3 separate regions of the Homo sapiens genome follow, and regions 2 and 3 are each linked to region 1. Evidence: fine-mapped expression QTL. A gene starts in region 1. Each other region holds a variant in brackets. All regions are shown on one strand. Distances are between the middles of the regions.

Region 1 (10,565 bases):
GGCCGCCCTGCCCCAGCCCAGGCGCCAGACCCCATGCAGAGTCGGGCGGCTCCCAGGGTCTTCTGCCCCTCTGGGCTGCAGTGGAGAGGTGGGGCCCGGAGGCTGCAGGCCCAGTCCCTCTGGGTGACAGGTCACGGTTGGGGAGCGTCTGGGTCCTGGGTGCAGGGCCTCTCACAGTCCTAGAACAGGACTCCAGACCCACGTCCCTCCCTGGTTCTCTTTGGTTGCTAATCCACCCCCAGTAGCCACCTCTGTGCCCTGCCCCTGACCAGGGCACAGAAGCAGCAACACCACATACTCCAGGTCCAGGTTCCCAGAGAAGTCAAATTTGCCTCTTTCTGGCTCATGCAGGTTCCACGGAACATAGCTAGAAGAGGTGAGAGGGAAGTATGATGAGTATCTTCTTATTTCTTCCTCCAAATTGTTAGGTCTGCCCCAAATCCAAGCCAAAACCATGCATAGCTCTATTTTGAAATAAGTTGAAGTTACCAGTGGAAATTAAACCTCTGTTACACTAACCATGACCATCTTTAATAGTTCCTTGCTCTATTATCCAATTGTGGTTCAAGCTGCCAATTATCCTATGATGCTGGGTTTCTTGGGATTTATATATAAATTCTTCCACTCACTGCCCTATTGTAACACTCATTAAAAGTATAAATTAAAAAAGAGAACAAAAACAAAAATGTCTACATCTTCCTTATAAATTTTTGCTATGAGTTAGTCAAAATAAGAATAAATGAGGAGTTTCTGTGAAGATAGTGGAGTTACAGTAAATCTAGTAAGGGTACTACCTTTAGACCTTAGCAAGAAGGGCCCCCAGGGGACCCTCCCCCATAGGGCTATGAGTAAAAATTTTATTAGGTATACCAGGCATAGTTCACTAGGCAACTGTGTTTTTTTGTGCCACTGGCAACATGTTTGAGTGTTATGCCCCTTAACATCATGTTTCCTATAAGCCCTGTGGTTTTTATTACACAATTTTGTGCAGTGCAGAGATTTTTGACAATACATCGTAGAACTGACTGTATGGCCCACCAAGAAGACATACTAATCATGGCCTTCTATGAGCTTAACAACGTAGCTTGTTGTATGTTGTAAGTTACAACATAGCTTGCCGTAAGTAAAGGAGAAGCTGACTGAATTAGAGAGGACCTGGATACATCAGTTACCATCACAGTGAAAAGATTTAAAGTACCCCTCTAAGAAACAAAGAAAATAAGCAGCAAAAAAAGAAAAAGAAGAAACTTGTAAGGATACAGATTTGAACTGTGTAATTAAAAGTCGGCATGTAATAAATACATAGAGAACCCAGTAGCCAACAGATGGAGCATCTACATTCCCTTAAAAAGCGCATCTGTACAACTAAGTATGAAAAAAGAATGTAAAATTTAAAAGACCAAAATTTAAAATGCATGAAACAGTTGTAAAATATTGGCATGTACTATGTCACGAAGTAAATCTCAACAAATTCCAAAAACCTATATCACATAGTCCATGATCCCAAGATAAATGCAAACAAATTTAAAAATCACAGTTAAATAGTAAAATTTAAATAAATAAATAAATAAATAAAACAGAAAGCGTATTCCCAAATAGCTAATAGAAACAACATCAAAACTTAGGAAATATTTGAAAATAAATGACATTCAAAGCACTATATAGCAAAATTTGTGGGCTATATAACCAAAGCAACACTCAGAGAAACATTCATATCTTTGAAGGAATATATTAGAAAACACAAAAGACTGGAAGTAAAAGAAGCTAAATTTTAACTCAGGGAAAAAGAAGAAGGAGGAGGAGGAAACTGAGAAGGACAGAGAAGAGAAGGTACTATATTTAATAAAGTAGAGAAAAGGAAATTACACATAACTCAGAAACTGTGAAATACAGATCCGAAATATACAGAGAGTACTAACAAAGCTACAAGCTAGTTATCTGAAAAGACTAAATAGATAAGATTAAGAAAAAAGAAAAAAACAGCCAAAATACACAACGTGATGTATATAACTTCCAAGTGAGTACAGGAAAGAAAGGAAAAATTTCTTAAGTCCCAGTGGGTTCAAAAGAAGAAAGAAGGCTGGGCGAGGTGGCTCACATCTGTAATCCCAGCACTTTGGGAGGCCGAGGCAGGCGGATCACCTGAGGTCAGGAGTTTGAGACCAGCCTGACCGATATGGTGAAACCCCATCTCTACTAAAAATACAAAAATTAGCCGGGTGTGGTGGCGGGAGCCATAATCCCAGCTACTCAGGAGGGTGAGGCAGGAGAATCACTTGAACCCAGGAGGGGGAGGTTGCAGTGAGCAGAGATCGCGCCACTGCACTCCAGCCTGGGCAACAGAGCAAGACTCTATCTCAAAAAAAAAAAAAAAAAAAAGAAAAAGAAAACAGAAAGAAAAAAGAAAGGAAAGAAAAAAAGGGGGAGAGCAGGATGTATTCAAGAAGAAATAGAGGACATGAGTTAATAACCATTCAAAGAGCTATGTCGTCCCCAAACCCTTCACCTCACAAACCACAAAAGATAGTAGTCACAGAGTTTACAGGTGAATCTTAAGAAACTTTCAGGGTAAAGATAATTCTTGTGCAAAATATTTCCAATAAGTAAGAAAAGAAGATTTACTCACTTTATGAGCTTATTATAAGATTGATTCAAAACTGGACAAGAATACTAACAAAATAAAATTTTAAATCCGTTTTGCTTATAATCATAAACACATTTGAAATAAAACACTAGCAAATAAAGTCTAGCAATCTGTGTGTATGTAATGTGTGCCTATCTCAGAGCCAAGCAGAGTTTATACCAGTACCACATGGCTGCTTGACTATCAGAAAAATTGCCGTTGTAATTCAGCAATTCAAAAGAACAGTGAAGAAAAACTATATTGTCCCCCCAATACATGCAGTAGCAGCTCTCAATAAAACTCAACGATTATTTCTGATTAAATTCTTTGCATTTTAAATGAACCAGTTTACTGCCTCTCAGCTTCAAATTCACCCTTCAATACCAGCTCTGCAATAAGGCACAGGGCCCTCTAAGCATCTTCTCCTTTACAGTGAGTGTGATGGTAAGCTTGCCACAAAATGGTGGTGGCAGGCCCTCAGGAGGACAGGGCCTCTGATTCTGGAGCAGTTTTGCTTTTTTGTGGTCATACAGGGTGGCTGGTCAGTTGTATACAGGCATGAGGACGACCGTGGTGTTCCCTTTTAAAGGGTGAACTGCTTGAGTCCAGGAGTTTGAGACCAGCCCAGGCAACATGGCGAAACTCCATCTCTACAAACAATTCAAAAAATTAGCCTGGTGTGGTGGCATGCACCTGTGGCCCCAGCTGTTCAGGAGGCTGAGGCAGGAGGATCACCTGAGCCAGAGAAGTAGAAGCTGCCGTGAGCTAAGATCGGGCCACTGCACTCCAGCCTGAGCAACAAACAGAACAACAAACTGTGTCTCAAAAAAAAAAATTTTTTTTTGTTTTAAAAACATGCATGTATCTGTAAGTACATATTTATCTGTAAGTGTGCCTTAAGCTTATGTCATTAAACTGAGTGCTCCCAAGGGCGCCTGGTGTTCCTTCATTAGACAGACAGAATCCTGAGGAAATAACCTCCTCCCTTGAGATTCTCCCACTAACCCCTATCCAAGTCTTTGATCACAGAGCAAACTCAGCATGAGACTAAGTGACAGCTGGACGCTTAAGCATTAAATGTATGTGCTGGAAACGACTGTGCGGAAGGTAAGTCCTCACGCTGGGCCCCCAAAATCGGAGGCTCAGGTTCCCGGCCAGGATGCACTTGTAGGGTAACGAGATCCTGGAGGTGAGGGGCCGGCACTCACGTGGTGACAGTATTGAAGCCACAGGCCTTCAGCTTCAGCAGGCGGTCCCTCCAGTACTCCCTGGGCACCCGGAAATAGTGGATGGAGCCCCCGAAGATCAGGAACTTGTGGCCCTCCAGTGTGAAGTGGGGCTTACCCCGACCTGTGCTTTCAGTTCCAAGTCCCACAGATCGATTCTTCAGCTCCAGAGGGGTCAGATGAGACCAATTAAACCTGGAGGGGGCGGGCGAGGGAAAGAAAGTGGAAAGGGAGAGAGGATTCGGGAGAGGGCTCGGAGGCACGGCTGAAACCCTAGCGAAAAGAAGTTTTTGTTAGTAGGACGTGTTCTGTGCATATGTTAGTAGGACGTGTTCTGTGCATATGTTAGTAGGACGTGTTCTGTGCATATTCGCGATACTATTTTCTCCAAGAAAGGAGAGATCGCTCCCCTCCCTCCCCAGGGATGTAGCTCTCAAGCAAACCTAGGCTGGGACGGATGCGCTCTTCCAAGCATGAAGTTCTCTTCCTGCTTAAACCGAGGAGCAAAACCTGATGAGATAAATGGCAGGAAAAAGATGCCCGCCATTCTCTTCCAGGAGAGACACGGGCTGAAAGGAGAAAGGACAACAGTGACAAGGGGAAGGTTCCGGCCCCACCGGGCTGCAAGGGCCGGGAAGCTGTGCCGGGGGCGCTTTAGAGGCCAGAGCCAGGGAGGGGGCCCGCGACACAGGCGGGTCTTCCAGGCGGGCCCAGGGCCAGGACAGCGCGGCATCACCCGGCCAGTCCTCTGCAGCCAGGATGAAGGCCGGGGACAGACGTTCAGTCCTAGACCCTCCAGACAGGGCTGGGCAGTGCCGGTGGGTGCCTGGGAGAGGCGGAGGCGGGCGCACTTCCAGCACCAGGTTCGGGAAGGACACGGTGCCCAGCCGCTGGAGCCCCTGGCCTGCGTGCCCCACCCTGATTTTCTGGCATCTGGTGAACGGCCCCTCCGCAGGGTGGGGGTAGCCAGGGGATCTGCCGAGGAAAGCTGGGGACAGCGGGCTTGGTGGCGCGGCCCGGCGCGGCGCGTGCCTGGGGCGCGTGGCCGGCCACAGAACCCGGGGAGGGTGGAGGCTCCCGGGCACGCGCCGGGGTGGTGGGCAGCCCGGGACGGCAGCGGCGATCCGTCACCTGAGGAGGGGCGGGGACTTCATCGCGGCCAGGCCGAGGCGCCGAGGGTCCCTTGCGGCTTCCGCCCCTCTCCGCTGGCCCCGACGCCGCGCTCGGGCCGGGACTCGAGCCCCGGTTCCGCGGGGCAGGCTCAGGTCTGCGCGCTGCGCCTGCAGCCGAGGCAGAAATCCGTCCCGAGGCGCGGGCGCCGGGTCCGGGTCCCAAGGATGCGCGTCGGGCTCCCTCCCGCGGGGACAGCCGAGCTCCGCCGGCGCTCCAGGTGTTCCCGCAGTGCGTCCGGGCGCGGACGCCTCTCTGCCCTCGGAGGGGAAGCGGGAGGGCCCTTGGGGTAACGCCCCGACCTCGGGCTTCCTAACCTGGGTCGACAGCCGGCTGGCACAGGGAGGCCTGCGCGGGAGAGGGGCGGAGAGAGCGCAGCGCGGGGCACAGCGGGCGGTCTCCGTGCCGCGCGCGCGACTGGAAACGGCGTGCAGATCCTAAAACGAGGGTTCCACAGAGGGCCACGAGGGGCAGGAGAGAGTCCCCGGAGAACTCTAGCTCCCCGACACGGCTACCTCTTGGCAAACGAGCGAGAATTGGGGCGCAGAGCCTTGGGAGGGCCGTTCCCTCGGCGGGAGCGGCCCGAGCACAGCCTCACAGCAGATGCGAGCGCGGCGGGCGCTTTGGTGACGAAGTAGCGGGACCTGCAGGAGGCAGAGGCCTGGTGGGGCCGTGGACGCCACGCCGAGCTGCCCAGACCCTTCCAGAAGACAGTGGGGACTATTCAACGGTTTCCAGCAGAAACTAAGCCAGGTGTTCGTTTTACGGAGATTGCTCGGCTGCAGGGTGGAGGCTGGATGAGAACAGGCGTCCTCTCAGGTAGGCGCTCGTGGTGGTAACGCTGCCCAGGAGGAGGGCACGGGTTCCGGGAAGACTTGCGAGGTTAAACCGGCAGCTCCGGAGAACTGAGCGCAAGAGGTCGGTGACACAGAGAGGAGTCCGGGAGGCCGCATGTTTCAGGCTGAAGTCACTTGGCGGGGACGTTTATTGAGATGCGAAACACAGGAAGGGATAGAGGCTGCGCAGAGGGAAAAGGCGATGGACTCGGTTTTGGAAACGCTGATGTGAAGTCCCTACGATGAAAAAAGAAATCTTCCGATTTCTCCCTTTGAAGTCTTTGCTTCTTCCGTTGCAAAGAACACAGCCTATGACATCAGGTTGAAACCAAGAATGTAGTTCTCTGAAAATACTGTGTGTGGGGGAGGGAGTTTATCTTGTCTCATTCCTTACAAGGATACTTTGCTCTCCGACACCTTAGCTCCCTGAAAGTTTCCTAGATCGTCCATCTTTTCCTCATTTTTTCGACTGCAAGCAATGAACTGTTAATTTTTTACAGTTTGGTTTTACAGCCACACACTTTATTCTTCTTTGTCAAGTTTAAAGTATTCTAGGGCTTGTGCCTTCCCACATAAAATTTAGAATAAACTTGTCTGTTTCTACAAAAAGCCATGTTGGTATTTCGAGAGGAATTGCAATCAACCTATGGATCAAATTGAGAATTGTATCCTTATTATGTTGAATCTTCCAACCCACGAACATGGTATGTCTGTCTATTTAAATAGTTTTTTTTTTTTCACTTCTTTCATCAGAATTGTGTGATTTTTTCAACATCAGATCCTATCACGTTTTGTTAGGTTTATACTTAAATATTTCCTTTGCTCTCAAGAGATTTAAACTGTTATTATTTTTATTTCAGTTTTTACATGTTTGTTGTTAGCATACAGAAATGTGATTGTGTTTCTCATGTTGATCTCATATCCTGTGACCTTGGCAAACTCACCTATTAATTTTAAGAGGTTATTTGTGTATTACTTGGCATTTTCCATGTAGATAATCATGTCATCTGCAAATATGGAGAGTTTTATTTCTACCTTTCCAGTCTGCGTGGCTTTTTATTCCTTTTTTTGTGTGTCTTAGTATGATGACTAAAATTTCTGTGTTGAATAAGAGCGGCAGGAACTGACACTGTTACCTTGTCCCCAGTGTCAGCTGGAAAACATTCTGTTTTTCACTATTAAGTATGATGACAGCTATAGGTTTTGTGTACATATTCTCTATCAAGTTGAAAGAGTTTGACAGCTGGGCCTGCAGTCACTAGAAATGCTGTGGTGCTTTATTGGAACAAGCTATGTATCAAGAATTGTGATTTTCTGCAGGCGTTGCTGGAGGAATTTTGACAAAGGTAGAAGAATCAAATAATGGATTATTGGTTCATTTGAAAGATGACATATCCTGTGTCCTTTTGCCATCTGGGGCTCCCCTCTGCTGATGGAGTATTTGAGAACCTCTATGAAGGAGCCCTGGAGAGTGAAAGTTCCCCCAGATTTCTGTGCTCATTAAACCTGTAGAACTCTTGAAAATGTGCAAGGTGAAGTAACAATTTTGATCAAACAAAGCTGTCAGTTTCTGTCTTGAGATTACAGAAGTAACTCTACAAGGCCAACATCCCAAGCACAGGAAAGACCAGCCACTAGGGCCGCAGACCCAGCATCCTGGTACAATTTATTAAAAAAAAAAAAAAAAATCAATATTTTTCCCTTCAGTTTCCATCCAGATAACTGATAATGAAACAAAGAGCTAATTTCCCAAAGCAGGCAGAAAGCATCAAAAAGCTCCCAGAGCTGAGTGTGCAAACTTCCTGTGCCAGTGCTTTGATGTTAATAAAGCACAATTCCTGCTCCTAAATTGCTCTCTTGTAAGAACAGCAGCTTCCAGAAAAAGAAGGCAGCACTTTCTGTTGCTTTAGTAGTGGACAACCCTATAGGAGTTAATGTATGAACCAGAAAAGACAATTCTTGATTTCTTCTTAGGTTGAACTTCTTAAAGAAATGTATGTGACAACTGTATAATAAGAACCCTTGTGAGATCCAAAAACCTGGGTTAGGAACTAATATTATCAGTGAAAAATTAAAGGGAAAGATTATCAACTATTAATATTCCAGTGTCAGAGAGCTGTGAACAAAGAGTTGAGGCAGAGATATCTTTAAGGTTAAAGTATGCAAAATCTGTTGTTTACTTGTAAGATCATCTTTCTAGGTTTATTGATAGTTAATAAAAAGCAGCAAAATTTATAAAAGTGAAAATTTAGCCACTTCTACTTGTAAGCCATCCTTGTTAGAGAAACTCTTTGTTTACTTAAGTCATGTTTACTACAGGAAATGAAAAATGCTCATTTGAGCTATAAAATGGACTCCGTGGTCTCTTAGTAATTAATTTAACCCATGATGACACGCAGTTCACAGGCTGAGATGGAGGGATAGGTAGATGACAGATACATCCCTGCTAGAGATCTTCAGAGCCCTAGCTTTAAATTTCATCCTTACAGACATTCAAACTTTAAGTAAATTGATAACCTGTCTCCCACAGATTAAAAAATAAATGAAGTGGATATGCACCCCATCACGCAGGGCCACTCCCAGCAGAGGGAAGTGAAGCAGCCGGCCTCCTGTCCCTCCACAGGGTAACTAACGCTCAAGTGCAGGCCTTTCTAAAGGAGCTGCTCAGCAGGCGGCAGCCCAGCTCGGCCACCGGGCTCTGGCTGTTATCATTCAAATGTGCCTTTTTTATGGACTGAGTCTGCTAGATGCATTCATTAGTTAAGGAAATGGAAAATCATGCGGAGCTCCAGGTGAGAACCCAAGGTTAAAGTGTGTTCTCAAGAGTCTTCTCCCCTGGGAGTTGAAGTTAATCAGCCTGATCAGGTCGGGGGGGAAGGCTTCCTCTCTGCATGAGTGCAGCCTTGGTGATGGAAAAGGGCCACCCTTGAGAAGGTAAGAGAGGAGGGAAGATCGCTGTCTCCATGGGGCACCCAGCAAGAGGCTGCTGTCCTTGCAGATAACCTGATCCATTGAGCTAAGAGCTGGATGGGGAGTGTCTGTAAGAATATTAAAATCCTTATCCAAAAGTGATTTATTTTCATCAGGTTTTTTCCTCTGTTATGAATAGCTGACATTTACCAAGCACTCGTGTGCCAGGCACAGTTCTGCATGTTTGACATTTCTGTCTATTGTCTCTTAACTCTCACAGCACCAGAAAGCGGGTACCATTAGTATCCCTCCTTTATCAGTGAGGAAACTAGAGCACAGAGGCTTTCAGTGACGTCACACAGCAGGCTGTTGACAGCTGGGATCTGAAGGCCCTGGAATGGAAAGATTCAGTCTCATATTGCCCAATTCGGTTCGCTGGACTCTGCTCAGCAAGCAGCCGCGTGCGAAGCACTGCTCTTGTTCAAACTAAGTGAGATGGCCTAGGTGAAAATGCTTCAGGAAAAGCACACAAATGCACTTAAAATTAAAGTATAACCACGTGGCTAGCAAAGCGGAAAGTGAAATGCTTCTAAACCATCAGGTCTATAAAATAAACTATGGGAACATGGAAAACTATATCCAAATATTAGAAGGCTTAAAAATTCTTCTGTTTTTTCGGCTGGGCGTGGTGGCTCACACCTGTAATCCCAGCGCTTTGGGAGACCAGAGGTGCACACCATCATGCCAGGCTAATTTTTGTATTTTTTGTAGAGATGGGGTCTCACAGTGTTGCCCAGGTTGGTCTCCAACTCCTGGGCTCAAGTGACCTGCCTCCTCAATCTCTCAAAGTACTGGGATTACAAGGATAAGCTACCACGCCTGGCCAATTTTATTCTTTTGTATGTGGGTATCAGTTACTACAGAATAAAATCCAACTCCTTGGCATACCAGACCCCTTTACAGTTCAATATTGTTTGTGGGGATGGGGAGGGGGCACAATCACTTTCTCAGAGCTTTGGGCCTCAGAAAGTCTTGCCTCTGGTCAGGCTTCTCCCTGAGGAATGCCATGGAGCACAGGGGCTTCCTGAACCCTGCCCTTGGGGCCTGAATCTCAGGCACAGAACCCCTTACTTAAACACTGAAGCCCAGACCCAACCACCTGTCTCGCCACTGCCCTGTTCTCCCACCTTGCCTTGACTCAAATCCTTGATCACCTGCGCTCTCCCCTAAGCAAGCTCGGAACTGTGGGCAGGGAGGGAGGCAATACTGGGCTGCCCCTGTGCAGCCGGTCTGCAGACCTGCCTGGACACCACAGGGCTCCCATGCCACCCGTGTGTGGATATTCCTCCTCCCATCACTAACTCTAAGCCCTGGCAGCACTAACCTGTTTTCAAACTCTATAATGGCATTGATTCCAGAATGCCACGTAAATGGATTACACAGTGTGTTGCCTCTGAGTTTGCCTTTTCACTCCCTGTGCTGCTTTTGTTTTGTTTTTTGGTTTTTTTGCTTGTTTGTTTGTATGAGACAGAGTCTCGCTCTGTTGCCCAGGCTAGAGTGCAGTGGCGTGATCTCGGCTCACTGCAACCTCCACCTCCTGGGTTCAAGTGATTCTCCTGCCTCCGCCTCCTGAGTAGCTGGGACTACGGACGCCCGCCACCATGCCCTGCTAATTTTTGTATTTTTAGTAGAGACAGGGTTTTGCCATGTTAGCCAGGCTGGTCTCAAACTCCTGACCTCAGGTGATCCATCTGCCTCAGCCTCCCGAAGTGCTGGGATTACAGGCGTGAGCCACTGCGC
Region 2 (10,565 bases), 42 kb before region 1:
TGTGTGTGTGTGTGTGTGTGTGTACGTGTGTGTGTGTGTGCGCACGCATGTGTGTGTGTTTAGTAGAGACGGGGTTTCACCACGTTGGCCAGGCTGGTCACAAACGCCTGACCTCAGGTGATGCATTCACCTTGGCCTTTCAAAGTGCTGGGATTACAGGCATAAGCCACCGCGCCCAGCCAATTTTTGTTATCTTAAAGTCCAATTGCATGACTTCATTGTTACATGTTTGGATTCAATGTTTAAGAGGACAAGTTTTTAGGGAAATGCAAATCAAAACCACAGTGAGATAACATTTCATACTCACTAGGATGGCTGTAATCAAAAAGAGAGCTTAAAATCAAGTGTTGGTGAGGATGTGGCGAACTTAGAAACCTAATACCTTGTTGGTGGGAACTGTAAAGTGCTGCAGCCACTTTGGAAACAGTTTAATGCTTTATGGAAAAGTTAAACACAGAATTACCGTATGACCCAGCAATTCCTCTTCCAGGTATATAACCAAGAGAATGGAAAACATACGACCACACAAAAACTTATGCATGAATATTCATAGTAGCATTATTCATAATATCCAAAAAGTGGAAACAACTCAAATAATCATCCACTGATGAATGGATAAACAAAATGCTATGTATCCATACAATGGAACATTATTCAGCCATGAAAAAGGATAGAATATACATGCTACAGCATCCATGAAGCTTGAAAACGTTAAGCTACATGAAAGAAGCCAAACACAAAGGGTCACATATTCGATTCCACTTTCGTAAAATGTTCAGAATAGGCAAATCCACAGAGACAGAAAGTAAATTCATAGTTGCCAGGGGCTGGGTGGAAAGGGGAATCAGGAGTAACTACTGACAGGTTAAGGGCTGCTATCTGGAGTGATGAAAATGTTCTAGATCAGATGGTGATGATGCTGGTACAATCTCGTGAATATATCCTACTAAAAACTACTGAATTGTAGACTTTAAAAGAGTTTACAACTCATTTTGAAAAATTTTATGGTATATGAATCGTATCTCAACTTTTTAAGTAGAACAAACGTTTCTCAAGTACAAGGTACTTTTATTTTTCTATTTCTACATATAGATCTGGAAATGTTTGCTTTACATATTATGAAGCTACATTTTCAGACAAAAACAAGTCAAAATTAGTATATCTTTCTCAGGAATTGAATTTCCATTACTATGGGTAACCCTCTATACCTAGTAACACCTTCTGTCTTTAAGTCTACTTGCCTGATGTTAATACAGTTACTATAGTTCCTTCAGTTAGAATTTGCATAGCATATTTTTTATCCTTGGACTTTCGATCATTGCATCTTTATGTTAAAGGTGTATCTCTTGTAAAACTCAAATATTTATAGTTTTCTTTAAATAATGTCTGACAATTTTTACCGTTTAGAGTTTAGCGCATTTATAAAATTTACTATGGTTGCTGATATATCTGTATTTATTCTACTGTCTTAATATGTGTTTCTACTTGTACTTTTTTTTTTATTATACTTTAAGTTCTAGGGTACATGTGCACAACGTGCAGGTTTGTTACATATGTATACATGTGCCATGTTGGTGTGCGGCACCCATTAACTCCTCATTTACATTAGGTGTATGTCCTAATGCTATCCCTCCCAACTCCCCCCACCCCATGACAGGCCCCAGTGTGTGATGTTCCCCTTCCTGTGTCCATGTGTTCTCATTGTTCAATTCCCACCTATGAGTGAGAACATGCAGGGTCTGGTTTTCTGTCCTTGCGATAGTTTGCTGAGAATGATGGTTTCCAGCTTCATCCATGTCCCTACAAAGGACATGAACTCCTCCTTTTTTATGGCTGCATAGTATTCCATGGAGTATATGTGCCATATTTTCTTAATCCAGTCTATCATTGATAGACATTTGGGTTGGTTCCAAGTCTTTGCTACTGTGAATAGTGCCACAATAAACATACGTGTGCATGTGTCTTTATAGCAGCATGATTTATACTTGTACTTATTTTTCTACTTCTTTATCTTCTACTATCTTTTGTCTTTTATTGGTTAGAGGATTTTGTTTGTTTGTTTTTTCTTACTCTATTTATCCTCCTAATTTTTTTAGAAAGTTAAAAGCTCTATGTATATTCTTTAAACATTAAGCTTAGTTTATTAACTAGGAATATTCAACAAAGTCTAAAGTTAATATCTGAGAATTACAGAAATCTTAGATCACTTTTTGGCCATCACATCCCTCTCGCTTTACACAGTGTTTTTGCCTGGTCTTAGAGTTTTATGCTGATGCTACCTCAAGTTAGACATTGGCTCTATTTCTATGGAGTTAACGTTTGTCCATATTCACTCTCACATATGTCAGCATCCTTCTTGGATTCCACGTTCTTTCTTAAAAGTCAGACTTTCCATCTGCTCGTGGCATATCTTTTAGAAATTTCTTCTCAACTGTGGTTCCCTGAGAGCGTGAAGATGTAATGCCCCAAGACATCCACAGTATGTAATGAGTTAACGTCTCTAATATGCATCCAGATGATATAATGAGAAACTAGTCACTGAAGACACTTTCTGCAGTGTTTAATTCTCTTATGGGACATTGAGAAAGGCCGCTACAGAACATCATTTAGTGGGGATCTTTTGATGATAACTCTCTTGGTTTTTGTTTGTCAGAAAGTTCTATATTTTGTTTTTTTTTTTTGTTTTTCTTGTAAAATAGTTTTGCTGGGTAAAGAATTCTAAGTTGTGAGCTCTTTTTCTCTAAGTGCACTGAAAGCATTATATCTTCTGAATAGCATTTTTGCATTCATATTTGGAAAAGACTGGCATACGTGTGGAACTAAGGTAGTAGCGAAAGAGGAGGTGCCAATCAGAGAGACATGATTTCAAATACCTCTTTGAACCTTGGTTTCTCATCTGTAAAATGGATATGTTGCATGGTTGTTGTTAAGTTTAGATGTTGCAGATGTTACACCTGAAATATAATATGTACTCAAGATCATTATGATTATTAGTTCTGCTTCCCTCCTTTACATTGCAGTTTCTATAGAGTTCATAGGTTTGAGGCTAGATCCCCAGAGAATAAAGTTTTATGTAGAATTGTGGAGGTATCTCACAGAAGTTTCCTCCATTGAAATAGTCATTCAGACTAGTGGGAGAGAAGATAATCTGACATCTTTATCTTCATTCCAATCCAAACAGAGGGTTCTCTTCCCTCTGGACACAAGATTACTTACTAAATTACTTGAAAGCCCTAGGCACTATATTTAACAGGGTGATAAGATTTGCTTATAGTGCATTGGTTTGAATTTAGGCCAAGTGCTGTGTTTTGTATATAAGAAAGTGCTTGGTTCCCAATGGTGCCATTTTTTTCAAATGGCTCCACTGGCTTTTCATAGTGGTTGGAATATTCATGTGTGTGTGGCTAATCTCACTAATGCCTACCCACTATCAGTAGTAGCCTTGACTATAGCCAGATAGACAGGGAGTAAGAAGACACAGAGAACCCTGCGCTAGCTTTGTTGTCACACGTGTCTGAAGCAAATGACCAAATTTCTGTTCCTTCTCTGATTAGATGTGACATGCAGGGTCACCTTGTAGACACATAGTTGAAGGGAAATGAAAGACATTGTTCATTGCCCTCTCCTTTCCCCTACTCCTACATACACACACACACATGCACGCGCGCGCGCACACACACACACACACACACACATACACAGAGAGAGAGAGAGAGAGAGAGAGAGAGGAGGGAGACCGTGAGTTTGCCCATTAGTACATGCAATACTCTCTCTGGCATGAGGAAATCAGTATCCTTACTCTTCCCCAGGCTTCAGACCTTTCCCTTCCCTTCAATTGAGTATGGGAGGCAGAAATGAAACTTGTTTTTATTTTATTCACATCTACTCAAAGGCACGTTTAATTAAAGAATAAGAGCCTGCTAAGGATTAAGCATTTAACTAGATAAATCAGTCATTAAAGATTTTGAAGACTTTTTAAAGCCTAAAAATAGGCATCATATAGATAGACTACAAAATACATAACAATTCCTCTGCTGTTTTGTTGTTGTTGTTATTTTCACATTTTTGCTATTGTAGGCAACACTGTGTTTGATAGTCTTAACATAAATCTTATTCCTCAAAAATGACTTATAGATGAACTCCAGCAACCCAAAAAATATGTTCACGGCCGGGAGTGGTGGCTCACGCCTGTAATCCCAGTACTTTGGGAGGCTGAGGAGAGCAGATCACAAGGTCAGGAGATTGGGACCATCCTGGCTAACTTGGTGAAACCCCATCTCTACTAAAAATACAAAAAATTAGCCAGGCGTGGTGGCGTGCACCTGTAGTCCCAGCTGCTGGGGAGGCTGAGGCAGGAGAATGGCGTGAACCCGAGAGGCTGAGCTTGCAGTGAGCAGAGATTGTGCCACTGCACTCCAGCCTGGGCGACAAAGTGAGACTCCATCTCAAAAAAAAAAAAAAATGTTCAGACACAGTTTTACAGCGTGGGCTTGTCTGTAGATTTGATATCTGAGCCACTCATCATCTTCTCAAACAAGATGACCTGAGAAGAAAAGAAAGGTTGACAGTGGGAAAGGTGAAGCCTATTTAGTACAGGTTGAAAAAGACACTGCAACTCACATTTTGATCTGAAAGTTTATGAGATCTCAAGGCAGAGACTGGAGTGACATACCTCATTGTCTTCTGGATGAAGCCAAACTCCAGGAAGGTACAGTGTTTTCTGAGGCCCAATATTCCAATATCGCCCAAGGTTACGTCCATTGATGAACAC[A/G]AATCCATAATTCCAGTTCTGAAAGGAATGGTGGCTTGAGATTTGGAAATTGGTTCACATTAGCAAGGTAAAACCTAAGGCACTTGGAGAGTGAGAGCAAGATTGAGATACTTTATGGCACTCAAATGAAGGTGAGTTTAGAGTGGGATATGTTATAGAACTTCTACCTTGCTGTCTAGGAATGAAAGAGAAAAGCATAAATAGAACCAACCCTTTAATGGTAAGGCTGCTATTGTTCCTGTTATGTGATATATAATGTTATATATTTTAAAAAGCAGATCTTCTACTTCCAGAAATAAATATCAGGTAATAGTGATGAACACCACTGCTGACAGTGGCTATTAATATAAAAGCTGCACATTTTTAAAAATCTGCTTGCAATATAATGAAGAATTACAGGATCAAGATCTAGAAGAAGAAAATGGAGAGACAAGGAGACATCTAGGCAGTTTTTCCACTAGAGGCACCTGCTTATTCTGGGATATAACAAAACAGTCTAGCACATAAAATTGGAGTCTCTGAAATGCTTCAAATTAAAGGGCAAAGGTTGCTGGTCTTGATTTCAAATAAAGTAGTTATATGCTACATATAAGAGAAGCATCAAAAACATAAGGCATTGGAAAAATAAAAGAAAAACAATGGATAATGATATGTAAACCCTAACCAAAAGGAAGTTGCTATAGCTCTGTTAATATTCAGAAAAATAATACTTTAAGGCAAGAAGCATTATTAGAGATAAAGAGGGACATTTCATGATGGTAAAATTCTTAATTTACCAAAAATGTATATACAACATACATAAGAAAGATAAAAGCAGAGATTCAAAACATATCAGCGAAATTGACAGAAGAGAAATAAATAAATTTACAACCATAGCGGGAAATTTTTATACAACCTTTCAATAGTCAATAGGCAAAGCAAATAACAATCAATAAAGACATAAAACATTTAAAAGAAGATGATTAACAAAATTGAACTAATTGACATAATAGAACATTGATCTAACATCTACAGTATACACATATTCTTTCAAGTATACCTCAGAATATTTACAAGCTTGATCCTGTATTAAACTAGTCTTCACATAAACTTCTCAGACTATAATGCATTTAAGAAAGAAACTGATAAAAAAGATAACCCTAAAATATCCAAATTCTTGGAAATTAAGAAAAGCACTTCTAAATAAACCATAAATCTAACAAGTAATGACAAAGGAAGTTGGAAAATATTTGAATTCTTTGATGATGATGATAAAATTGATAGAAACTTGTAGGGTATAAGACTATCAGCAGATTTTTCAGCAGAAACCTTGCAGGCTAGCGTGGAATGGACCGATATATTTAAAATGCTAAAAGAAAAATCAACTGGCAACCAAGAATACTACATCCAGCAAAACTGTCTTTCAAAAATGAATAAGAGATAAAGACTTCCAGACAAAAACTGAGGGAGTTCATCGCCACTAGACCTGCTTTACAAGAAGTGCTAAAGGAAGTCCTTCAACTTGAAAAGAAAGGAACTTAAACAGTACCAAGAATCCACAAAAAGTATAAACTGATTGGTAAAGATCATCAAGTTTCCCCCCGGCAACAACATGGCCCCCAGAGTGGCCTGCAGCTTTCTGGACACTGCCTCCAGGACATCCAGTGCCTCAGGTTGAATACTACCTGCCAAATGGCGCCTTCGGTCTACACTATTTGCCTTAATATGAGAAGAAAGCACAGCCCTACTATAGCAAAGTTCTGGACCCAGGGAAGCTTCTCAATGTCCCCCAAAACATGGAAGTTGTCATTATGGGCAAGTGCTTGTGAAGCATGTGACCTTCAACAATCCACACAGCCGTATGAAGGAAAAGTAAAATTCCAACTTAAAACTTAGAGGTGAAAGAGCAAGAGTAGGTATTTTATAATTCCTAGCAGACTCAAGAAGATTGGCCCTAACCTGCAGGATAATTTGCAGACCTTCTCTTTTGTTGGGCTTAATTTGCCTGCCAGCTCCTTACAAAATCATCTTTAAGACATTCTAAAATGCACATACCGAAGTCTACTTGACACCTTCAGAGAAGCACCTACAGGTGAAGTGCTCACCTTTAGTATCAGCTGTTTGTTATGAAACCTTTATTATTTTTTAGATAGAATTTATAGTTATGATTAAACTGTTAGGCTAACATGGCAACCTTAAAGCAGCAATTATCCAACTAATAAGACACTAAAATGATTCATCTCTTCCTATATAGACATCGCTTGTCTTACAACTTATTTTTTCTGTATTTCAATATGAACCATTACCCATATAATAGAAAGTATAATATAAAAATAATGCACTGATATGAAATATGGCTTATAATTATGTACATTCTGAATTCTTGCTTTGAAGAATGTAATTCTTCAGTCATGAAAATAAATACAATAAATTTATTCTTATTCTACGTGTAAAAAAAAAAAAGGTATGGGAGTCATTTCCAATATAGGCAAATCCATAAAGATAATAAAAAGATTGCTGTTGCCAGGCGGTGGGAGAAGGGGAAAATGGAGAAGTAATTGCCCAATGTTTATAGGATAATGAAAATGTGCTGGAACTGGAGATAGAGGCTGCATAGCATTGTGAAGGCATGAAAGACTACTTAATCGTTCACTTTAACAGAACTAATTTTATGTTATGTAATTTTACCTCAAAAAATCTTTTTAAAACTTAGAGGATGCAACCAAATCCACGCGTAAATGATGATTAATAACCTAAATTCATATAATTAAAAAGAACAAAGACTGAAAGTCCATTATCTAAGTATCTATGTCAAGACATTATAAAAATAAAGCAAATTAATCCTAAACTAAGAAATTGAATAAACAAAATAATAAAGATAATGACAGAATCAGAAAATAAATACTTAACACAGTAAGAGTCATAGCCAAACACTGTACTTTGAACAATTAATAAAATTGATAGTGTTCTGGTGAGAATTATCAAGAAAAAAGAGTGCATCGATATCCTGTAACAAATGACAAGGGGAACGTTACTACCAATGATCTAGACATCAAAAACGAATATTTTAAAGGCAATATATTTGAAAATTTAGATGAAATGGGAAAATTTCCAGAAAAATATATTTTCTCAAAGCTAACTTTAAAAGAAACAAAATCTGAATAGTACTTTAATCTTTCAATAATTGAATCCACACTCACACACTTTTTCAAAAAGAAAATGCCAGCTCTAGAAGGCTTCACTAATGAACTCCATTAAATGTTTAAGAAGTGATACTTGTCTTACACAAATTCGCCTTCCTAAATCCTTTATGAGATCCCTAAACATTGGCACCAAAACCTGACAAAGAGATCTCAGTTATGAACATAAACACAAACGAAGTCTTAATTATTTACCATAGACAAGCCCTAGATATAATCCAAATGTTCAGAAAAAGTAAAATGGTTAAATAAATTATTATAATGTATTTACTAAATGAACCCAATACAACAGTGAAAATGAACAAATCACTGCAACATCGATAAATGGCTGAACCTCACAATGTTGAACAAAAGAAAACATATTTAAAAAAGATGCCCTGTATGATTCCATTTACATAAAGTCAAAATAGGAGACACTGGCCTAGGGTGTTAGAAGTCAAGGCAGCAGTTGGGAGGGGTGCCAACAATATTTTTAACTTTCAGTGATAATTATATGGTGTTCACTTTGTGATCATTTGTTGATCTGTACATTCACATTTTGTACATTTATGTTATCTATGTGTATTTATACAGAAAAAGATATTCTAAGTAAAAACTAACTTACCAACTCACCCCACACAGAAAAAAAAGGCAAGCTTCAGAATACATAGTACAATTCTATTAGTGTAAAAATAATTGTGTACGTGTGTGTTCAGGCAAAGTTATATATAAAAATGTACCACTGTTGGCAGTGTTGAGTTCTGAGAAGCAGAGACTAATTGGAATGGGGGTGGGTTCAAAGGCGAACTTCATGCTTTGCTCTCTCCCTCTTGTTATTGTTTGAATTTTTAATTGTGCTTTGATGTGTTATTCTCTGAACAGTGATAAATTAGGAAGACTGATCAATGTTGGAAGGCTTGGTTGGAGATGAGGAAGAAGAGGAAAAGAAGAAAGGGAAGTATTCCTCCAGGAACGCTGGCTTTGCTTCAGGACTCTTTAAAAATAAAATTGGTGTTTGGAACACCAGGGCAGCAGAGGGCATCACCTACCAGCAGGCTCAGGAAGGTGTCCTTGGGAGAAGGGCCAGCCTTCAAGGTCCCACAGTAGAAGGCCGGGCCCTGGTGGCTGTCTGGGACAGGCTTCCAGGTGGCAGAGCGGAGCCTGGAAGAAAGGCCAAGCCATGGGGGAGAAGAAGTCCCCTTCCCAACCCAGTTCCCAGTACCCACCCCAGGTGGCGTGGGCCGAGCCTAAGGTTCTGTTTCAATGAGATAGAGTAGACTAGATGCGTTAAGATCAGAATCAGGACACTTGTTCCAGGGCCCTAGTTCTGACGCCGAAGTACCCAACAGCCTGGAGTACATCACTCAGTCTCTATCTTGGACTCTTTATCTGCAATGAGGAATCTGAAATCTCTGAGTTCCCCGATCACTGAAGTGTGCACTGGGGGCCAGCTGGAGCATACCTCTCAAAGAAGCTCATTTTCATCTCCAGGGAATAGATGGTAAAGCCCTCCAGGGAAGAGTTATTGATGCTGACAGATCCAGTTATTCCTGCAGATGCAGATGGGAGGCAGGAAAGAGAATATGAGCCAGGACTGGATATTCTCTAGCATCTGGGACAAAGCAATGCAGACTTGTACATGCCTTAGGACAGGGGCACAGCCAGGAGGGCAAACATTTGTCTGACCTGCTGTGACTGAAGGGTTCTAGCTGTATGTTTCCACACTACCAAGAAAGTTCCCCCACTTAGTACTGGAACTTTTCCTGAAATTCCCAAAAGGAGACTGGCCCTGCTTGAGGACAAGCCAGCACCGAACACACTGGCCCCACCCTCTGGCCCTGGAGATCAGAGAAGGCAAGACAAGGGCGAGGGGCCGATTTTGCATCTCTGCTCCCAGGGCCTGGGTAGCCCACTGCTGAGCGGCTGGTTTCCCCACCCTCTCCCGCCCCCGACTCCAGTGCATAGCCCGGGTCTTCGGTTCTGAGCAACTGAGGAGAAGCCACAGCCAGAGCCCACCTTTCTGCTCATTCTGTATTTGCCATGAAAAATTGACTCGTCCTTGATTCTCCACCAGGATCCTCAGGTATCGGCAGTCCTGCTGGGACAGGCCAGGTCATGGAGACCACGCAGCCATGGAGGGCGTCTACCCGACAACCCGTTTTTTCACTGAGTCCCACATGGAGAGACACATGGGAGAACAGGAGGCTCCAGGGCCCAGCAGTCTTCCCTTCACCTAAGGACTGCCTTGTGTTCCTATAGTCAATCTTCCCTTTCCCCTCTGCTGATCCTACTAGGAAAGGCAGAGAGACTCAGCTGTACCTTTAACCAACTCCAAAAGGCACAGAAACCCAACCAGGGGCTGAGGACAGGCTCAGGACTTGGTGAGGAAATCCCCTCCCCTCCAGCACACATGCGGTAGCTCCTGAGGGGCCAGGGCCTGGGAGGCACTTTGGCTTCCAGCCCTGCACACTTCCTGCCGCCGCCCCAGGTGAGCAGCAGCACCAGCAGCAGGGGTGGAGAAGGGAGGCTGACTGTCTCAGGACCAGGCTCCGTCTGCATTTGAGGGGGGTCGAGGGCATCACCTGGACTCTCAAATTACATACCCTGAGTTCAGGAATGTGCAGGTCCTTATTATT
Region 3 (8,735 bases), 52 kb before region 1:
TTAAAATAAGCACAGTTTAGAAAAATGCTGGGCTAGGGCACCCAGAAAACTTTTTCACAGGCTGTGGGTAAATCACAGTATCACTGAAGCCACTCCTTTGCCATAAACAACATTTGGAAAAGGGGGAGAGGAAAGGGTGAGCTGGTAACAGGTGAATGGTGGGAAAGTGGAGAGAGACGACCTATCAGTCCTACTGTGCAAATAAATCATGGCCCGGGATCTTGGAGGCCCACGGACACTGTTCTTACGACCCTGCCAGGCCAGCTGGCTAGACCATACCTGCCAGGCTGAAGCGCCGGCCTCTGCGGAATAAGGCGCCTCCCAGAGGCTTGGGAGGAAAAGGGGGGCCTGGGGGAAGGGCAGAGGGAGCTCTCCGCGGAGCAGTGGGGACGGGGCCGCGATGGGGTGCGTCTGAGAGGGCTCTGACGGCTGGAGGGCTGCGGGCGTCCACGGGGGGCAGAGCCCGGCGTCACAGGCGCGGCGGGGTGGGCGGCTCGGGGCACAGACGCCGGCTCCCGAGGGCACGCCGGGTGTCGCCCAGAGGCCTGGATCGCGCGGCAGGAGTAGAGTGCCTGCAGCCGCAGGGGAACTCGGGGGTATTGGGGAGCTCCCAGAAAGAAGCAGCTGGGGCTGCTCCCCCCGGGAACTCGGGATTCGCGGGTCGCGGGAGGAGAGAACCCGAGGTGCGGAGGGCTGGGGAATGTGGGGTCCGGCAGGTGCTGCGCGAAGCTCTCTCTCACCTGCGGAGCACCAGGAAGCCCAAGACGACCAGCAGCAGGAGTCCCAGCGTGCGGGCCGGCCTCCGCCGGAGGCTCCACGTGGTCATCGCGTGTTCTCTAAGCGCGGGGACCCGGGTTCCCACTCCAGTCCGCACTCAGCCGCGCGCGGGAGCCTCGCCGCGGGGGGCGGAGCCGCGCACTGGTCGCCTGGGCAACCGGCCCGCCGGCGCTCATTGGCTGGGGCTCGCGGCTCCGCGCCTGCAGCCCTAGGCCTCGCGCAAGCGGGGGCGGGGCTGGCCGGGGCCGGGGCGGGGCCTCTGTCGGGGGGGGGGCGGGGCGGGGCTGGTGGGCGGGGACGAGGTCTCGGTAGGAGAGGGGGCTGGCGGGGGCGGGGCTGGCGGGGCGGGGCCCCGGCCGGGGGCGGGGCGGGGACAAGGTCTCGGTAGGGGACGGGTCTGGCCGGGGCGGGTCCCCAGTGTCGTGGAGCGGTGCAGAGTCCGCCGTCTTTCTGCTCGCGAGGCGCAGGCGGGTGCGGGAATGCTGCGTACCTGTCAAACGCCGAGGTAAAGTCGCCCCTCGCAGCGCTACATCAGGAAGAACGTACAAAAGGCGTCCGCAAAGCAGGGGCAACCAACAGAATCTTTTAAAACAATTCAGATTCTGAAGCAAACAACTTTTTCAATAACAAATCATCCTGTGAAAAGCCAGGATTTTGAAGAATTGTATCTGGACACATTTCAGTGTGGTTCATGTCTGAGGAGGGGGGGTTCCAAATATTTTCTGTCTTTGGTTTCTGCGAGTCTTACTCTGGCCTTGACTCCAAGGGCTTCCAATTTTTTATTTTAAAAAGGTCCATATAAAACTCTCACATTTTAGGAAAGGAAGAATATCATTCTTATTCTGAAACAGAATGTATGTCCCAAAGAACATGATGTAGTATTTCGGTGCAACTTACACTGTAGCAATCACAAACCCAACTCCTCCCGGGAACAAAATTCAGATTTTACTGAAAGAAACTCGAGGAAGGGCAACGTTTTCCAGAGCATCCGGGTTTGTCGAATGTCTCCCTTGCCGCATGCTTTGAATTCATTTCCTAAACGGGGGCATAGTTTTGAACTTGTAAAGCCGACAGGAACCAAATGAAATTGCAGATCTTGGAACAAAGACACAGACTTGGGTATGAAGTGTCCTTTGTCTAGCGTTAAGCACATATTTAGTCAAGGAGCAAAAGTTAAATCAAAGAGAGGCAAAAACAAACGAACAAACAAGAGGAAAAAAACCCTGGCAGAACTGGGGAGGATAAGCTGGGCTTGGAGCAATCCGGGTCTGACTTAAGCACCGCAAACATTCCCAGAGGCGCGCAGAGGGAGGCCCACTCCCGTGGACGCGCTCCAAGCCCGCTCCTTTTCTCCATTGGGTAAGGCTATGATTGCTTGATGGCTATGAAGTCTGTGATGGAAACATGTTGGTTTAATTGGAATATACCAGCTAGCCCCGAAGCGTGTGGAGAAATTGTCAAAGGCTAGCCCCTTTGCCTGCAGGGGACCATCCGAAAGACATGCACCCCACATTCATCCTCTCACTTCTGGTCACGTTGAACAGTGGCAGAATCTATCAAATATAAGGGAATTCTCAAATGGTTTAAGCAATACAAGCATCTCCATTTTTCTTCAAACGTTAGCAAAAACTTAACATGGGTTGTGAAAACCGTGAACTCCTTGGCCCACCCTTGTATCCTTCGTTTTTATTTGTGCGAGAAAAATATACATAACTGAGTGTTTTCAAAAAAATTTCCCCTTAACCTTGTGGGATGTTCAGAACTAGGGACACACCCTGCTCACAGTCTAGGAACAATTTTACTTTATCTGGGCTTAATGATACCACAGAATGCTACAAAGTTAGCACTAACCCGAGATGCGTCTTGCTCATAGGCTGAGACTTTTTTTTTTTTTTTTGAGACAGAGTCTCACTCTGTTACCCAGGCTGGAGTGCAGTGGTGCAATCTCAGCTCACTGCAATGCCTCCCGGGATGCAAGCTATTCTCCTGCCTCAGTCTCCCGAATAGGTGGGACTGCAGGCACCCACCACCTTCCCCGGCTAATTTTTGTATTTTTAGTAGAGACGGGGTTTCACCATGTTGCCCAGGCAGATCTCAAACTCTTGACCTCAGGTGATCCACCTGCCTCGGCCTCCCAAAGGGCTGGGATTACAGGCGTGAGTCACCATTTCCAGCCTGAGACTTTTGTTTTTTAAAACATTAGGCCGGGTGCGGTGGCTCAAGCCTGAATCCCAGCACTTTGGGAGGCCGAGGGGGGCAGATCACGAGGTCAGGAGATCGAGACCATCCTGGCTAACACGGTGAAACCCCATCTCTACTAAAAATACAAAAATT[A/TA]GCCGGGCGTAGTGGCGGGCGCCTGTAGTCCCAGCTACTCAAGAGGCTGAGGCAGGAGAATGGCGTGAACCCAGGAGGCAGAGCTTGCAGTGAGCCGAGATCGTGCCACTGCACTCCAGCTTGGGCGACAGAGCGAGACTCCGTCTCAAAAAAAAAAAAAAAAAAAAATTAGCAAGATACTCCTTCAGTGTCTCCTTTCCAAAATGTTTAGTGATCTTAACCCAAAGCAGACAGTGAAAATACTCAAATCCCTGGGAACAAAAGCTACAGTTACAATGAGCTGGCATAAGAGTGGGGTAAAAAAGTGGTCTGCCAAGGTGCTTGGCTTGGTAATGAATCCCTGGTACACAGGAATCATCCTCTTCCCAGGCCTTCTTTCTAGTGTCCAGGGTTTAGAAAATACAAGAAATGCTTTTTAAAAAAGTTAAATCTTGTTGGTGTGCCATTTCCATTGCTCTAAGTCAGAGCTCCAACAGACCCAGAGGGCACAGTTCCTTCCTTGAAAATTCCTGTATCACAGATAATCAGCGGGAAACCGAAACACATACAAAATGCACACACAGGAGAATAAAAACCACACTCGCTCAAAATCAGTACAGTGAAGTCACGTGGGAAAAGCGATCATGTCAAACTAGTCTCATTTGCTGTTTCACTTTTTATTTTTAATAGGTAACAGGTTTACAGATCAGTTATTCATTCACGTAACTCATTTTTGAGGGCACTCTGCTAATGCTTTAAACACAGGATATCTGAATTTTAGGAAAACATTGGCAAAATTTCTTTTAGTCATGAGAATAAGATGAAAAATGTGGCTTCTACGATAGTACAGTCACTTGGGCCCCTGGACCAAGATATAACCCTCTCCTCCCCACCTCCTCCTTATGGACAGACACCTCTGTCCAGCAACCCCCATCCACCCTCCCCTCAGGAGAAGCAAAGTCCAGTTATGATGTCAAGTTGCCAGGGGTCTTGAACAAAGAAATTCAGAGCACAGGAGAATTCCTGGGAATAAATGAGGGCCATTTCAACCCTAGCCAAAACAAAATAGAAAGTCCTGGAATGGAGATTTGGCCTAGGAAAAAGAAAAGAGAAGGCAGATTTAAGATAAAGGAAGTAGACAAAGCTTTTCAGCCCCAAAGATATGTGAGTGGGACTGGAAGGGGCCTGTGCACATCCGATAAGGATGCACAGAACTTGATCTTTGGCCTTACCAAGCCTAACTATCATTTTGTAGGCTCAGCCTTTGAAGGCCTAATAGCCAAAGATCTAATTCTGCAGCATTGTATTTATTAAAAAGTAAATGACAAATTTTAATGACCATAAACAACATACTGAACACTGTTTCACATGCTTGGGATGTATCAGTGGACAGAACAAAGATCTCTTCTCTTTGAAATTTCTGTTCTAGCTAGGGAAGAAAGACAATAAAACTTAACAGAATGAATAAGTAAACTGTAGAGTATATTCAAAGGTAGTAAACTCCATTGCAAAAATTTAAGAAGTAATAAGGGAGCCAGGCCCAGTGACTCACGCCTGTAATCCCAGCACTTTGAGAGGCTGAGACAGGCAGATCATTTGAGATCAGGTGTTCAAGACCAGTCTGGCCAACATGGTGAAACCCCGTCTCTACTAAAAATACAAAAATTAGCCAGAAATTGCTTGAACCCTGAAAGTGGAGGTTGCAGTGAGCCAAGATCATTCCACTGCACTCCAGCCCGGGCAACAGAGTGAGACTCCATCTCAAAAAAAAAAAAAAAAAAAAGTAATAAGGGAAGGAGGACTGGGAATGTGGTGGGGAGGGGTCTGCAGAGAGGCGGTCTCCCCGGAAAGACATTAGCTGAACAAAGATCGGAACACAGTGGGAGTTCTCCATGCAAGCGAACCAAGATAGAACCTGGAGGAAGCACTGTCCAAGCAGACAGAGCAGCTCGTACCAAGGCCCTCAGGAAGGAGCATGACCTGGTGTCCCTGGTGTCCAAGGAAAGGCTAGGAGGACAGCGTGGGAGGTGATGGCAAGAAGGCAGGAGATGAGGACAGAGAGATACAGGGGCCTGATCATGCAGGGCCTTTAAGAGCAGGGCTTTGACTCTGAATGAAATGGGAGCCACTGCATGGTTTGAACATGGCGGTGATGATAACTTAGAAGGATCACTGGTGCCATGCAGTAATCCATATGGGAGACGATGCTGGCTCAGGGGACAGCGGTGGAGGTAGTGAGAAGTGTTGAATTTTTGGGAGTATTCGGAAAGCAGACATGAGAGGGTTGTTGCAATTCGTGGATTGTTTGTAGGGGGAGAGAAATAAAGGGGGCTTAAGAATGTCTCCCACAGGCTGGGCCTGAGAAACAAGAAGTGCTGGTCGCTGTGACCTGAGATGGGGAAGGTCATGGGCAAGTTTCTGGGAGACATCAGTAGCTCAGCTTGGACCTGCTGCATTGAGTGGAGTGGAGTGGAGACACCACGCAGGCTGCTGAACATCAATCCTGATGGTCCAGAAAGAGGTTTGGGATGGAGATACGAATTTAGGAGTTGACAGAGAGCTGGTATTTAAAGGCAAGAACCTGCACCAATTAACAAAGTGCAGACCGAGAAAGGGGATGGGGACAAGCCCTGGCACACCTAACACTGAGAAAAGGCAAGGAACCATGCCACCAACAGGTGAGGTTAAAGCAACACTGAGGATCGACCCGTGGATTTAGTATGTGGTAAACGTTGGTGAACTGGACACAGGCAGCTTGGGTGGAGTTGGGGGTCATGGGATTTGGGAAGCCAACTGGAATGGGTTCGGGAAGGAAGGGTGAAGAGAAATCTAAGACCATTAATGTAGATGACTCTTTTGAGAATATAGGCTAGAAAGGGGACACATAGGCTGGGTGCGGTAGTTTACGCCTTCAATCCCGGCAATTTAGGAGGCCGAGGCGGGTGGATCACCTGAGGTCAGGAGTTCGAGACCAGCCTGGCCAATATGGTGAAACTCCATTTCTACTAAAAATACAAAACTTAGCTGGGCGTGGTGGTGGGTGCCTGTAATCCCAGCTACTCAGGAGGCTGAGGCAGGAGAATCACTTGAACCAGGGAGGCAGAGGTTGCAGTGAGCTGAGATCACACTACTGCACTATAGCCTGGGCAACAAGAGCAAAACTCCATCTCAAAAATAAATAAATAAATAAGAAAGGGAATACATAAATGGGATGGTAACTGGGGCAGAAGAGGGAACTGAATCAAGAGCCGTGTTCTATTTTCATTTCTACTACAGCATGCTTGTATGCTGATAGTGATCTTGATCAGCAGACAAAACTGGTGAGGTAGGACAGACCGTAGAGAATTTCTGTTGTGAAACCCTTGAGGAGGTAAAGTGTAGGGACAAGGTGACCAAGTGAAGGGATTAGCTTTAGGTTGGAGCATATGAGATAGTTTAAGTCCTCACTGAACTCTTGACAACAGAGTGATCACTGAGGTTAATTTCAAATCCACGTCGTAACCCTGCCAGATGTGAGAGTGAGGCGTGTCACCGGAATTTGTTGTTAATATCAGAACACGCTTACCCCTCTGTATCTGTGGGTTCTGCATCTGTGGATTCAACCAACCATGGATTAAAAATTTTTTTTGTAAAAAATTCACATCTAGAGTGGAGGGACTGGGGATAGTTAATGGGTACAAAAATATATTTAGATAGAATGAATAAGATCTAGTATCTAATTTAGATAGAATTTAGATAGAATGAATAAGATCTAGTATCTAATAGGTAGTAACAGGATAACTACAATCAACAATAACTTATCGTACATTTAAAAATAACTGTGGGAGGCCAGGCACGGTGGCTCACGCCTCTAATCCCAGCACTTTGGGAGGCCAAGGCGGGTGGATCACAAGGTCAGGAGTTCAAGACCAGTCTGACCAACATGGTGAAACCCCATCTCTACTAAAAATACAAAAATTAGCCGGCATGGTGGAGCATGGCTGTAATCCCAGCTACTCAGGAGGCAGAGGCAGGAGAATTGCTTGAACCTGGGAGGTTGCAGTGAGCCAAGATCGCGCCACTGCACTCCAGCCTGGGTGACAGAGAGAGTCCGTTTACATGGGAGTATAATTGGATGGTTTGTAACACAAAGAAAGGATAAATGCTTGAGGTGATGGACGCCCCATTTACCTTGATGTGATTATTACACATTGCACACCTGTATCAAAATACCTCATGCACTCCATAAATATATACACCTACTATGTACCCATAGATTTTTAAATTAAAACGAAGAAAACTACAAAGAAAACACATGTGTACTGAACATGTACAAACTTTTTTCCTGTCATTATTCCCTGAACAATACAGTATAACCCTATTTACATAGCATTTACATTGTATTAAGTATTATAAATAATCTCAAGATGATTGAAAGGATACAAGTGAACGTGCATAGATTATATGCAAATACTGCCTCATTTCATATCAGGGACTTGAGCACCTGTGGATTTCGGTATCCATAGTAGATGGTGGAACTGGTCCCCCACGGATGCTGCAGGACGACTGTACTCACTTTGAAATGCAAGTATGCATTTGAGATGTAACATAAAGTGAAACATTAAAATGTTATCAGCAGGTTAAAGTGAAATAAAGCAATTACTGATTATTATAAAAACTGTTGATTTAATGTCCAAAAACAATTATTAAGAATTTTCAAATGTTGAAGCACCTAAGGAAACAGATTGACAGCTCATGTGAATGTGGAGAGCATACATTAGCTTTATAACTTTATAACTTTGGGAAGAATATGATATCCTCTTTAAGCCAACAATGTATAGAAAATATGTTTTTAAAATATAAAATGTAGTATAAAATATGTAAACATTTTATATCATATGAATTATAAATTTAAATGTATAAGTAATAAATATATATTAACACAATAAAGATTATGTTATATCACAATTTTTATCATTTTAGAATTGCTTGATGAGTACCATTTATTACACTAAACAACATGCATGTGTTTTTTATAAAAATGTGGTTTATACCAAATTTATTGTTATTATTTAATATCATTCAGGCCATGAATCTTTGAAGAAAAAGTCTTCTTTGGGGATTCTTGCCACCTCAAATTTCATGAGAAGGCAAATCTCCAAAATTATGTGCAGCTACATCTATGATAAATCATTTTCAGCTCAGACAGAACAAAGAACAGACAAGGTACAAAGAAAAAACGATAGTGGTCGGCAAAAATTAGGCACATTATGTTCTCACTAATCCAACTTCAAAAGACAGATTTATAATAACACTTTTAAAAGATAATTTCTTATAGCTTTGAGTCTGCAGAGACTAAATAAAAAGCTTCTCAGGATAATTGCTATATGCTGGTATTTTTAGTAGTTTTTTGGCTGCCAAAGAATTGTTTAAATCTGCCCAAGTTATGACTTCGAGGTACAAAGCTCCTTCTACAAAACATGCTACTAAAATATGTTTTCCTGAATTATATTTTACTGTGTATCAATCAGTGATATTATTAAAATATCCATGTCTTGTATATCAGATATTTGGGCATGCAGAAACAAATAGAAGTTGCCTTAAAGTTGGGTACGGTAGATTAAGTTTGGTATGGTAGATTAACGAAAACTTTAACAATTCTTCTC

Alleles and levels. Positions count from the first base shown, and alleles are read on the strand shown. Sizes are in standard deviations (SD) of each study's normalised expression.
For the expression in testis of the gene that starts at base 5,365 in region 1, A is the low allele of the variant in region 2 and G is the other (small effect, 0.23 SD a copy in GTEx).
For the expression in thyroid of the gene that starts at base 5,365 in region 1, A is the high allele of the variant in region 3 and TA is the other (moderate effect, 0.45 SD a copy in GTEx).

What was found. PIP is the estimated chance that this variant, and not a neighbour inherited with it, causes the effect.
Region 2: its variant is fine-mapped to the expression of GLB1L3 in testis (GTEx, PIP 0.94).
Region 3: its variant is fine-mapped to the expression of GLB1L3 in thyroid (GTEx, PIP above 0.99).

What each region holds. Positions count from the first base shown.
Region 1 is chr11:134,271,179-134,281,743 of GRCh38, reverse strand. GLB1L3 (galactosidase beta 1 like 3) reads right to left here and starts at 5,365. Exons shown (of 20, transcript NM_001080407.3): 1 at 4,981-5,365; 2 at 4,293-4,418; 3 at 3,832-4,044; 4 at 299-367. The coding sequence starts at 5,003. RefSeq lists a silencer at 5,187-5,256 and enhancers at 5,707-5,756, 5,907-6,036, 6,097-6,206, 8,347-8,902.
Region 2 is chr11:134,312,855-134,323,419 of GRCh38, reverse strand. It overlaps GLB1L3 (galactosidase beta 1 like 3), which reads right to left. Exons shown (of 20, transcript NM_001080407.3): 15 at 10,533-10,565; 16 at 9,946-10,024; 17 at 9,392-9,479; 18 at 8,979-9,090; 19 at 4,673-4,789; 20 at 3,856-4,543. The coding sequence ends at 4,478. It also overlaps the pseudogene LOC100421417. Among named protein-coding and RNA genes, the nearest start is that of GLB1L2, 14 kb to the left of the region's middle. The variant A/G (reference allele first, on the strand shown) is at 4,772.
Region 3 is chr11:134,324,153-134,332,887 of GRCh38, reverse strand. It overlaps GLB1L2 (galactosidase beta 1 like 2), which reads right to left and starts at 900. Exons shown (of 19, transcript NM_001370461.1): 1 at 741-900. The coding sequence starts at 826. It also overlaps a transcript of GLB1L3 not described here. RefSeq lists a silencer at 751-1,050. The variant A/TA (reference allele first, on the strand shown) is at 3,112.